Linked DNA regions of Homo sapiens: region 1 is linked to region 2. Evidence: fine-mapped expression QTL. Tissue or cell type: whole blood. Region 2 holds a variant in brackets; the other region holds the start of a gene. All regions are shown on one strand. Distances are between the middles of the regions.

The links. PIP is the estimated chance that this variant, and not a neighbour inherited with it, causes the effect.
Region 1: PEA15 starts here. The variant in region 2 is fine-mapped to the expression of PEA15 in whole blood (INTERVAL, PIP 0.93).

What each region holds. Positions count from the first base shown.
Region 1 is chr1:160,202,474-160,207,621 of GRCh38, reverse strand. It overlaps PEA15 (proliferation and apoptosis adaptor protein 15), which reads right to left and starts at 2,238. Exons shown (of 4, transcript NM_003768.5): 1 at 2,100-2,238. PEA15-AS1 (PEA15 antisense RNA 1) reads left to right here. Exons shown (of 5, transcript NR_123725.1): 3 at 1,246-2,284; 4 at 2,488-2,551; 5 at 5,106-5,148. RefSeq lists a silencer at 2,123-2,382 and enhancers at 2,533-2,582, 2,933-3,032.
Region 2 is chr1:160,344,873-160,350,020 of GRCh38, reverse strand. It overlaps NCSTN (nicastrin), which reads right to left. Exons shown (of 17, transcript NM_015331.3): 3 at 899-1,022; 4 at 351-472. Among named protein-coding and RNA genes, the nearest start is that of NCSTN, 4.1 kb to the right of the region's middle. RefSeq lists an enhancer at 3,154-3,203. The variant C/T (reference allele first, on the strand shown) is at 3,146.

The DNA.
Region 1 (5,148 bases), 140 kb after region 2:
TGACGAGAGGCAGGACATCTGGGCCCTAAAATGTTCACTTCAGTCCAAGAAGCAAAATGGATTACCTTTGGGCATGGGGACAAGGATTAGCCTTCAGCCCTTGGTCTAGAAAGAGCCAGACCCAAGATGGGGCATCAGGAGATAGCTGGCACTGGATCAGGCAGAGCAGAGGAGGGCCGGCTGATGGCGAGGAGGGGAATGGGGCCTAGGACTCTCCCCAGCCCATCTCTGTTTCCACTCTTCTGGTGTGGCACTCCCTGCTTCTATTTCTGTCTCTCTCCATCTCTCTCACTCTTTGTCATGCATTTCCTTTCTACTTCATCTTTCAGTCTCTCTTTTCCTCCTTTCTATAGGCTTTCACCCCTTCTAGCATTTCCTACTCACCTATCCAACTTAGTGGTAGCCATGAATACTTAGGACTCCTGAGATCTGTGCTTCACTGTCCCCATCTGAATATTCGGAGCTGCAATTAGGAAGGGGTGAGCATCCCTGCTACAAAAGACAGAGTAAGTTTGGTCGGAGTGGCTTGGAGATTCAGTGGTTGGCTGCCTACCAGCTGGTGAAGATATCCATCATGACATTGTGCGTGAGGATCTGTGTGAGAGAGTGAGGCGCTCTGTGATTCTGTGACCCTCTTCATGCATGATAATACATCCACACATGATGGGCACGGAATTGAGGAAGTAGGCAACCAGGGAAGCCTGCAGCCTAGGGCATCACTGGCAATTTCCCCAATGGAGTATTTAACCACAAAGGGAAGAGCAATTAAAGCTAATCGCTCTGACAGCCTGGGGCCCAGACACACGTACCACTTTCCCTAACTCCCAGTGGTCTCCCCCAACCTTCATCCTCCCTAATTTGTTTAGTGCACTCTCAAACACTGTTTGCACTTCTCTGACCATCTCTTTCTCTCACTTCCTCCCTCTCCCTGGTTCCCTGACTATCTCTAGACCTCTCTGGAGATGTCTGTCTGCTTCTCACACACATTCCTCTCATTCTCTCTCTGACTTGGGTTCCATTCTTGGCTGACTCATACCCATTCTTTTTCCTCTCCGTTTCTTCCACCCCCTCCTCCTCCATCCCTTGGCCACTCTTACCCAGAAACTAGCCACTCCCAGCACGCTAAGCCCTAACTGGACCCAGGAAGAGAAGCCACCAGAAGCCCCTACCCTCATTAGTCCGCAAAATCCTGTCTCCTTGTGTTAGAGGAATGAGACCAAGATTTTCTCCCATCTTTCCCCACAGTTTTAAAGAGGAACAATCTGAAACCATGGGGCTGGGAAAAGCTGCCAGAAAATCAGGATGGATTTGGGGACAGTGGCCCTTTCTGTCCACTCAGCTGTCCTGTCGGACTGATGACTTGGAGCCCGCAGTTCAGAAGACTCCTCATGGGATGCCCCACCCCACAGAGTGGGGGTGTGGTGGGCGGCCGGATGCGTAGTCCAGGGACGTTTGTGATTTGGAGTGTGCTAGACTATGTGTATAAGTCACATGGGTGTGTGTCACTGTGTGTGCTGGCGTGCCTTATAGGTGTGCGTGTTTCCCTGTCAGTTTTGACACGGATTATATGAAATTAATAAGGGTTTTTACGTTAGATATACATCACTTCTCTACACCCCCAGCTCCTCCTTCCCTCTGGACAAGCTTTCCGCCAAGCCCACCTCTTCCCCAGGTGCAGTGAGCTGGGGGTGAGGGCACATGGTACCAGCCGCCCGCGGAACCGAGACAGGGCTGGGCCGGGAGACCGCCAGCGGAGGCGAGTCCGAAGCCTGAGCGGGGAGGGAGGGGCGGGCGCTGGCCTGGCCGAGCCGGCTGGGCGGGAAGCAGGCTGCATCCTAATCCACAGGCCCCGGTCCGACTCCCAAACTGCCGTTCAGCGTGGAACGGGCTGGCCGGAGCCACGCCGCCTCCAGCACACGCTCGGCGCTCGGGACGCACCGACCGAGGGACGGACCCCGTGAGGCCTGACACAAAGTGGACTCGTCCGGGGTCCCCACACTCCCCGTCTGGCCCCCGGTGTCCCAGATCGTTGCCCCTCCAAGCCTAGACCCCGAAATCTGCCCCTTCCCCGCGACATGTCTCCTCTCCGCCCCTCTCACCGCCTCTGGAGCTGAGCGCTCAGGGCGCGGGCACTCCTGAGTCCCCGGTTCCTAAGCAGCGTCCGGAACCTCCTCCTCGGCTCCCGCCGCCGCCGCCGCCGCTTCTGCCGCCGCCGCCGCCTCTTCCGCCCGCGGAGCCGGAGCCCGAGCCCAGCGCCGCTCACTCCACCCGGCTGGCCGGTGATGTCAGAGCCGGGGAGGGGCGGGGGGCGGGGAATGGCGGGAGGAGGGGGAGGGATGGAGAGGCAGGAGGGGGCGGGGGACCGAGGGGCTGGGGTTCTGGAAGACTCCTAGGATGGGGGACAGAATTGGGCGGAGGGCTGGAGCGGAGACGGTCTCTTCCCCCTGAACTGCGAAACAATTCTCATATTTAATTCTTACCCAGTAGGGCACCCTCCTCCCCTTTTGACCTTTGGATGACCACGGTGCCTAGGACCCCTGGGAGGCACAGAGTAGGTTTGGTTTAGGGGGTTGGAAAGCCTTTGGGGGCTGGATTCTCTTAGCTGCTGGCTTTAATATTTGTAAAAACTTCTTGCCTTGCCTTAAGGGTCAGGGGCGCAGTGGAAAATGACTGATCAGACTTATCCACATTGGGAGTGAGGGGTTGGGGCCACATGGGGACTTGAGGAGCCCTGGATCTTCTCTTTCCAGGATGATGCCTTCAGGCCCTCTTGCGTGCCTCTCACCTTTCCCAAACATGCCCCACTCCTGCCTTCCCCCTACCATGATGTAATTTTATTTTCTGGGGAGAAAAAGAGCAGCAGTGAGCTCAGCATGCAAATATAGACAACTTGCAAAGCCACACTTAGCTCCATCTCCTAGCTCTGCCCCTCTGCCCAGGCCCAATGTGGCAGCTCTCACTTCCCCTCTACCCCAGGGACTTTCCTCCCCCAGATTCTCAGCCAGACTGAAAAGAGGAAAGGAAGAATTGGAGAAGCATCTGTTTTCACCCCCATCTCTATAGCCTAAGGGGTCTTGCCTCAGCTCTGGGCAGGGTTTGGCCCTGGAAAGAAGTCTGACCCTGGGTAGGTCCTTCCTGCCAGGAACTCCAGCAGGCCCAGGTTGGGGGATTCCCCTCAGTGTTTGTGCCACTTCCAGGATCACCCATCTCATCTCAGTTCCTACCTGGCAGAGACTCCTCCAGAAACCTCAAACGAGCCCCTCCTTTCTTGGGTCTACACCATTCCTAGAAGAGGCCCAAGTTCCTGCTGCTCTGGGTTTCATAGCATTTCTCTGCTGTTTCCTCTCCCCAGCATTCCCTGTCACACACTAATCATTTGCCTTTGTATATATCATGTTTGCTCTGTGTTGTAGGGACAAAAACTATTTCGTTGACCCATCTTTGAGACTCATGTAGTTTCTAAGTGAAAGGCTCAGGTCTGGAGGCAACAAGACACAGGGGCCTTGGGCTGCGTGCTAGTTCCACCCATTCCTTGGGCAAGTTATGCCTGAAAGCCTTAGTGTCCTCACCGGTCAGATCAGGGTGCCAATGTCTATTTCTGAGGGTTCTTCTGAGATTCAGAAATAGTAAGTCTCTAGGGACTGGCACAGATGGGTGCTTAAAAAATAGGAGCTATTATTTAGACCGGGGCCTTCCACTGACCTATGCTAGACAGTAAGCTCCACAATATTATTGTAAGACTAGCTTAGTGCCCATACTACTTATTAAACATTTATTAAATAGCTACAAGTTGGAATGAATACATAGTTTCTGCTTTCTACACCCCTGCCACATTCTCTAGGAACACTTCCTGGACTTGTCTGTGGAGAGTGAAAATATATCTAATCTCAGGTCTCATCTTTCCGTACTTAGAAATCCTCTAAGTCTCTCAGCAACAACTTTACACCTGATCCATGAAAAATATAATGTTGGCTTGGCGTGGTGGCTCACGCCTGTAATCCCAGCACTTTGGGAGGCTGAGGCAGGTGGATCACCTGAGGTCAGGAGTTCAAGACTAGCCTGACCAACATGGTGAAACCCCATCTCTACTAAAACTACAAAAAAGTTAGCTGAGTGTGGTGGTGGGCACCTGTAGTCCCAGTTACCTGGGAGGCTGAGATAGGAGAATCTCTTGAACCCGGGAGTCGGAGGTTGCAGTGAACCGAGATCTCACCACTGCACTCCAACCTGGCAACAGAGTGAGACTCCATCTCAAAAAAAAAAAAAAAAAAGAAAAAAATATATATATATACACACACATATATATGTATATGTATATATATATAATGTTTATTATTTATGGGCATCATCTCAAAAATATATATATAATGTTTATTATTTATGGGCTTGTTTAGCTATTTGTATATATTATATATATAAAATGTTTATTGTTCATGGGCATCATCTCAAAACTATATATGTATATGTTTATTATTTATGGGCTTATTTAGCTATTTGGCCCTCCCATCCCCAACTCCCTAAACTCCTTTTTGCTTACCCCAGCCTGGGCCTATTCTGGAAAGACTGTGGGTCCTTCTTGCCAAGACCTCCAGCAGGCCCAGGTCTGGGAGATCCCCATTGTATACAATATCTCCTCTCCATTCCCATGGCCACCACTTGGGTCCATGTTCTCCCAACATCACTCCAATTATTATAACAGTCACTGATTATGGGTTGGGCCCCTTACCTCTGGCATCTCCATCATCTCCCCTCCCCATCCTGCTTATCGCTACCAGATTAAATTTTGCCCTGCCTCCTCGGCTGGCAGGATTCAATTCAAACAGCTCTACAACCCAGCCCCATTATGCTTACCCAACTTCATGGCCACAACTTGATTTTTCTTCTTGTCTCTCTGGTCTCTGTGCCCCCAATATGACAAACATATCCTGCCAGTACTTGATGTTTTCCACTGACTGAAATGTCTCCTCCTCAGCTCCTTTGTCTCCAACCAAATCCCATTCTTCAATTTAAGGCCTAGTAAAGGCTTACTTCCTTTGTGAAGTCATCAAGCCCACTCTGATCTCTCTTCTGAGTTCATTCTGTTCTTTCCTTTGTTCTTCCTTTAGGAAACATTTACTAGGGACAACTTTTGAGTGTCAGACCCTGTGG
Region 2 (5,148 bases):
GTTGGGACTAAGAGTTCAAAAGGAGGTGGTGACTCAAAGAAGTAGGCATGAAGTCTATTACCATCCACACTAAAATAGAAAGACAATGGTATCAGGGAGTCTTAGGCTGTAAGATTAGGGATGTGAACACGTGACAAAAAGAGATAATGCCAGGTAAGGCAAAGGAAGGGGAAGCAGGAGAGGGAAGGGATGAGCAGCAAAGACAAATAAACACTACCCCCTGTTTGGGAGTCAGTTACTGACACTACACACAGACACAAACACATATACATCCCTCACAAAGACGTAAGACCGAAGCAACAGTGAGCCTTAGGTGACAGTAGGCTCTCCTGATCCTTTGGGACACTTACCAAACCCATCATTTGGGCACTGTACACTAGGAGAGAAGCCTGAGGCAGGACTGGGCTTGGTCAAGGACACTGCAAGACCAGCAATTCGGCTGGTTCTCCCTTTCAGCTTCTCCATTAAATCCCTGGAATAGGAAAGGAATTCCATGAAGGAACACAGGAAGGTATCAGACAGCCTGACATTCTGCCTGCAGGATGGAAACAAATGGGGAACTAGGGGAATCAAACTGTTGACTTATTTCTTCCCTTTCAGTCTCTAAATTCTGAGTCTGGACAATGATCTGCTCTAAAAAGTAGAGCTTTAGTGAGTAAGGACCCCAGGGAGGGAGGGGAGGGATGCCCAGGGTTACTCAGGGACAGGTAGGTGAAATTTAGCCCTAAGCTCAAGATCATTTCTTTTGATGGTACACCTTTCCTTCTGAGGACCACCCTGCCCTCTCCCCTGACCAGACCAGGGCAGCCAAGGGAAGTTTTCACTAATAAGTGTGAGGACTGTTCACTGAAACTTTCCCTCTATGGATGTTTTCCCAGCAGATACATCTAGTTCTTACCTGGTAAAATGCTTGCTCTCCAGCAGAACCATGTAAGGGGGGTTGGGGCCATCAGTCAATACCCACTGTAGGTCCTCCTCTTTCTCTACTACGTGGATAACCCCTGTGTCTCCACTAATTGAAGCTGCCAGGACAGAATGAGTCAAATTAAAGCTCCCATAGTTAACAATTCTGACTTTGCCTCACTGATTCTGCGTATCTTTTATCCCCTAAAGATGTCACAACATATTTGGGTGAATACAGGCACCTCTAGATTTGAACTGAAAAGCTGTTGCCCCAGCTCCATCTGAAGGTTATCAGGAGGGAATGGAATATAAAAGAGCACAAGAGGACTCATTATATGCCAGAAAGGTTCTGTGAACTTCATTTTTTTGCCCTCTGCCCTCAACCTTATTTAGCCATATACATAAGATTCTACAACAATAGACACCAAAGTTTTCAAACCTATATTTTCTCTAGGAAATGCCACTAAATCTCTAGCTCAGGGTTTTAGCTTTGAATCTTCCTTTGTAAAAACACATGCATACATGCCCTTGGCCTCAGGAGCTTTCCTGGATCGTCATTCCTTTTGCCCTTTTTGGGAATGACTTTACTTGCTTCTGGCCGGTTTTAGATGAGGTTAGTCAAGAACTCTGAGGTTTCTAAAACAGAGCTTCCCAATTGATAAGCCTCGAATGGATCAGAGATGTGCTCTCATTGGTTCTCCTCATTCCAGGAAACCTAGGGTTTCCAAAGTCACCTCCAGCCAGGAGCCTACTTATCATTTACCCCAGGATGCCCTGAAAATATCACCCATTTCTCTATGTGCCAGGATGCTATACAAATAACATTTTCTATGTGTCTCATGACATGATAAAGATTGGGAAGCACTGTATTAGAGGATGGATGACCCAGAGTCCAGAATACTTTGAATTCTACATAATTCAAGGCATTAGGTAATACTCCTTAAGTCCCCAGTGATCTGTGTGGAGATATCCTAGGGTCTCCCTGTGAGTCTTCTCCCTACAGAAAATTGGATATGTTATTCATCAATTATTTTAGACCAGTAGTTCTCAGCCCTGGCTGTATATCAGCATCACTTTAAATGCCCACTCAGCCTCCCAAAGTGCTAGGGTTACAGGAGTGAGCCACCATGCCCGGCCCTTGCCACAGCATTTAAAACATGGGAAAAGGAACAGATAGTGTGGCAACTAAAACATATATAACTTCGGCCGGGCACAGTGGCTCATGCCTGTAATCCCAGTACTTTGGGAGGCCGAAGTGGGTGGGTGGATCACTTGAGGTCAGGAGTTTGAGACCAGCCTGGCCAACATGGCGAAACCCCATCTCTACTAAAAATACAAAAATTAGCCAAGTGTGATGGTGCACACCTGTAATGCTAGCTACTCAGAAGGCTGAGGCAGGAGAATTGCTTGAACCTGGGAGGCGGAGGCTGCAGTGAGCTGAGATTGTGCCACAGCACTCCAGCCTGGGTGACATAGTGAGACTCTGACACACACACACACACACCCCAAAACTTCAACTCCAGCGAGGACAGGAAGACAAACTATGATACTGGACTGAAAAAAACCTGGATTCTAATCTGGGTTCCAACTAGTAATGGTGTAGTCTTAAGTAACTTGCTTATTTTCTCTGCGCCTTCAATGAGGTTTTCTACCTCTATTCATCTCATACTGTGGGGACAGACGAAAGAAGGAAGAAAGGATAGAAGGAGGGAGGGAGGGAAAAGAAACCTATTTAAAGCCCCCTTTGAGAACTTTAAAGCGTCTAAGAGAAGCAGAGTATTATAATCAGAAATCAAATCTGGGTATCACTTTTTTCTCCTTAGTTTTATCATGTTAGCTACACTAATTAAAAAGGGCGGAGCCTGCTCAGAAAAGACAGATATGACGAAGTAAGATTTGGAAATAAGTAGGTTGAAAAGGAACCAAGATCTTAATGAGGAAGTGGCCACAGTCCCGCTTACCCCCTCTTGTTTCTCTGTACTGGCACGTGGCTTTACCTCTAGAGGCTTTGCTTCCTACAGAGCTGTTTTAAGAACATAGAGTAGAATGACTTATTCCCAAAGGAGTTTTCTTAGAGCCTAGTTACAAGAGGTTGGGGTCCTGGCCTTCTGTACTTTATAGTGAGGTTCCAGCAAGACCAGCAGTCTGATCTCAGCCCACCCTGGACCTAGCTCTCTTCTACCTACAAACCAGTTCAGAAACTAAGTCCAGAGGGCTGGGCATGGTGGCTCATGCCTGTAAT[C/T]CCAGCACTTTGGGAGGCCAAGGCGGGCAGATCACGAGGTCAGGGGTTCGAGACCAGCCTGGCCAACATGGTGAAGCCCCGCCTCTACTAAAGATACAAAAAATTAGCTGGGCACGGTGGCACGCGCCTGTAATCCCAGCTATTCAAGAAGCTGAGACAGGAGAATTGCTTTAACCTGGGAGGAGGAAGTTGCAGTGAGCTGAGATTGTGCCATTGCACTCCAGCCTGGGCGAGAGGGCGAGACTGCATCTCAAAAAAAAAAAAAAGAAACTAAGTACAACAAAAACTTTATTTGGGGCTGTTTGGAACCAGTCAACCTACTCCCAGTGCTTTGTATAGCAGGGACATGGGACAATTAACAGATACTATAGCTCAGGGAAAGATGGCTAAAAAAGTAGTAACTGCTTCCACGAACAAGTCCTTCACTTCTCAGTGTCCCAGTTTTCTCTTATCAAATGGGAAGAAGGCTTCAGGAAATTATACAGCACTTTTGAGACCACCCTATTTACCTAGCGTCATCAATAAACAACTATTAAGAGGTATTTGACTTTCAGCTTTATGCAAGTACTCCAACCATTATTCCAGGGGTAAACTGAAATTCAGAGGTGATCAATTTGATGATGAAGAAGCCAGTATCAGACCCCAAGTTTCCTGCTTATCTGCAAAACTACATTCTGACAGAGCTATTGTCCATGGGAAACAAAATCTGAAGACAGCAGGTTAGCCTTTAGATTACTACTTTTCCTGCCCTATGATTTTGATAGTTTTTAAAGCCACAGTGTCATGGAACCTTCTTTTGGAACACACAAAGTGTGAAAATAAACGGCCTGTCAGTTGAATTTAAGGAAAAAAAGTTTTAAAAAAGGATAAATAGAATGCTTCACTAATTCCTCTTGCAATTATTCAGCATTTTCTTTTTTTTTTTTTTTTTTTTTTTCAGACAGTGTCTCACTCTGTCACCTATACTGGAGTATGGTGGCACAATCTCAGCTCACTGCAACCTCCGCCTCCTGGGCTCAAGGGATTCTTCTGCTTCCGCCTCCCGAGAAGCTAGGACTACAGGCATGCCATAGCAGCCAGCCGGCTAATTTTTGTATTTTTAGTAGAGATGGGGGGGTTTCACCATGCTGGCAGATTGGTCTCAAACTCCTGACCTCAAGTGATCCACCCGCCTTGACCTCCTGAAGTGCTGGGATTACAGGCATGTGCCACTGCGCCCAGCCTATTTGGCATTTTCAGTGCCTTCTCTTCAGATAGTTCATTGCCTTTAGCCCATTTTGGTTCCAAAAAGTTCAGAGTGCAAGTGATAACTGGACACCATAGAATATGAGACTTTTTTCTCCTTAAAAAACAGTATAATAGGGTGGTTAAGAGTGCTGGCTCGGCTGGGTGCGGTGGCTCACGCCTGTAATCCCAGCATTTTGGGAGGCCAAGGTGGGTGGATCACTTGAGGTCAAGAGTTCGAGACCAGCCTGGCCAACATGGTGAAACACCATCTCTACTAAAAATACAAAAATTAGCTGGGCATGGTGGCAGGTGCATGTAATCCCAGCTACTCAAGAGGCTGAGGCAGGAGAATCACTTGAACCTAGAAGGCAGAGGTCACCGTGAGCCGAGATCGTGCCATTGCACTCCAGCCTGGGGGACAAGAGTGAAACTCCGTGTCAAAAAAAAAAGGTCTCTCAGCTTAGTGCTCGGGCCACCAGATCCTGGCATCATCACTTATTACCAGTATGATCTTGGGAAAGTTACTCAACTTCTTTAAGTTTTAGTTTCATCATTTATAAAGTGACAATAACAGTAAGACCTATTTTGTGGGGTTGTGGTTGGGGTTGTATGAGATGCACATGTAAAAAGCTTGGTATGCAGCATTTACTAAATGTTAGTTCTTATTAATTATCTTGCCTAGCTTGACAGACGGTTATCTGTAACTGCCTACATACAGTCCAATATAAGTGTCAAATCTCCTAAGCAGGACATGGATGTTACTTAGTATCTAGGGC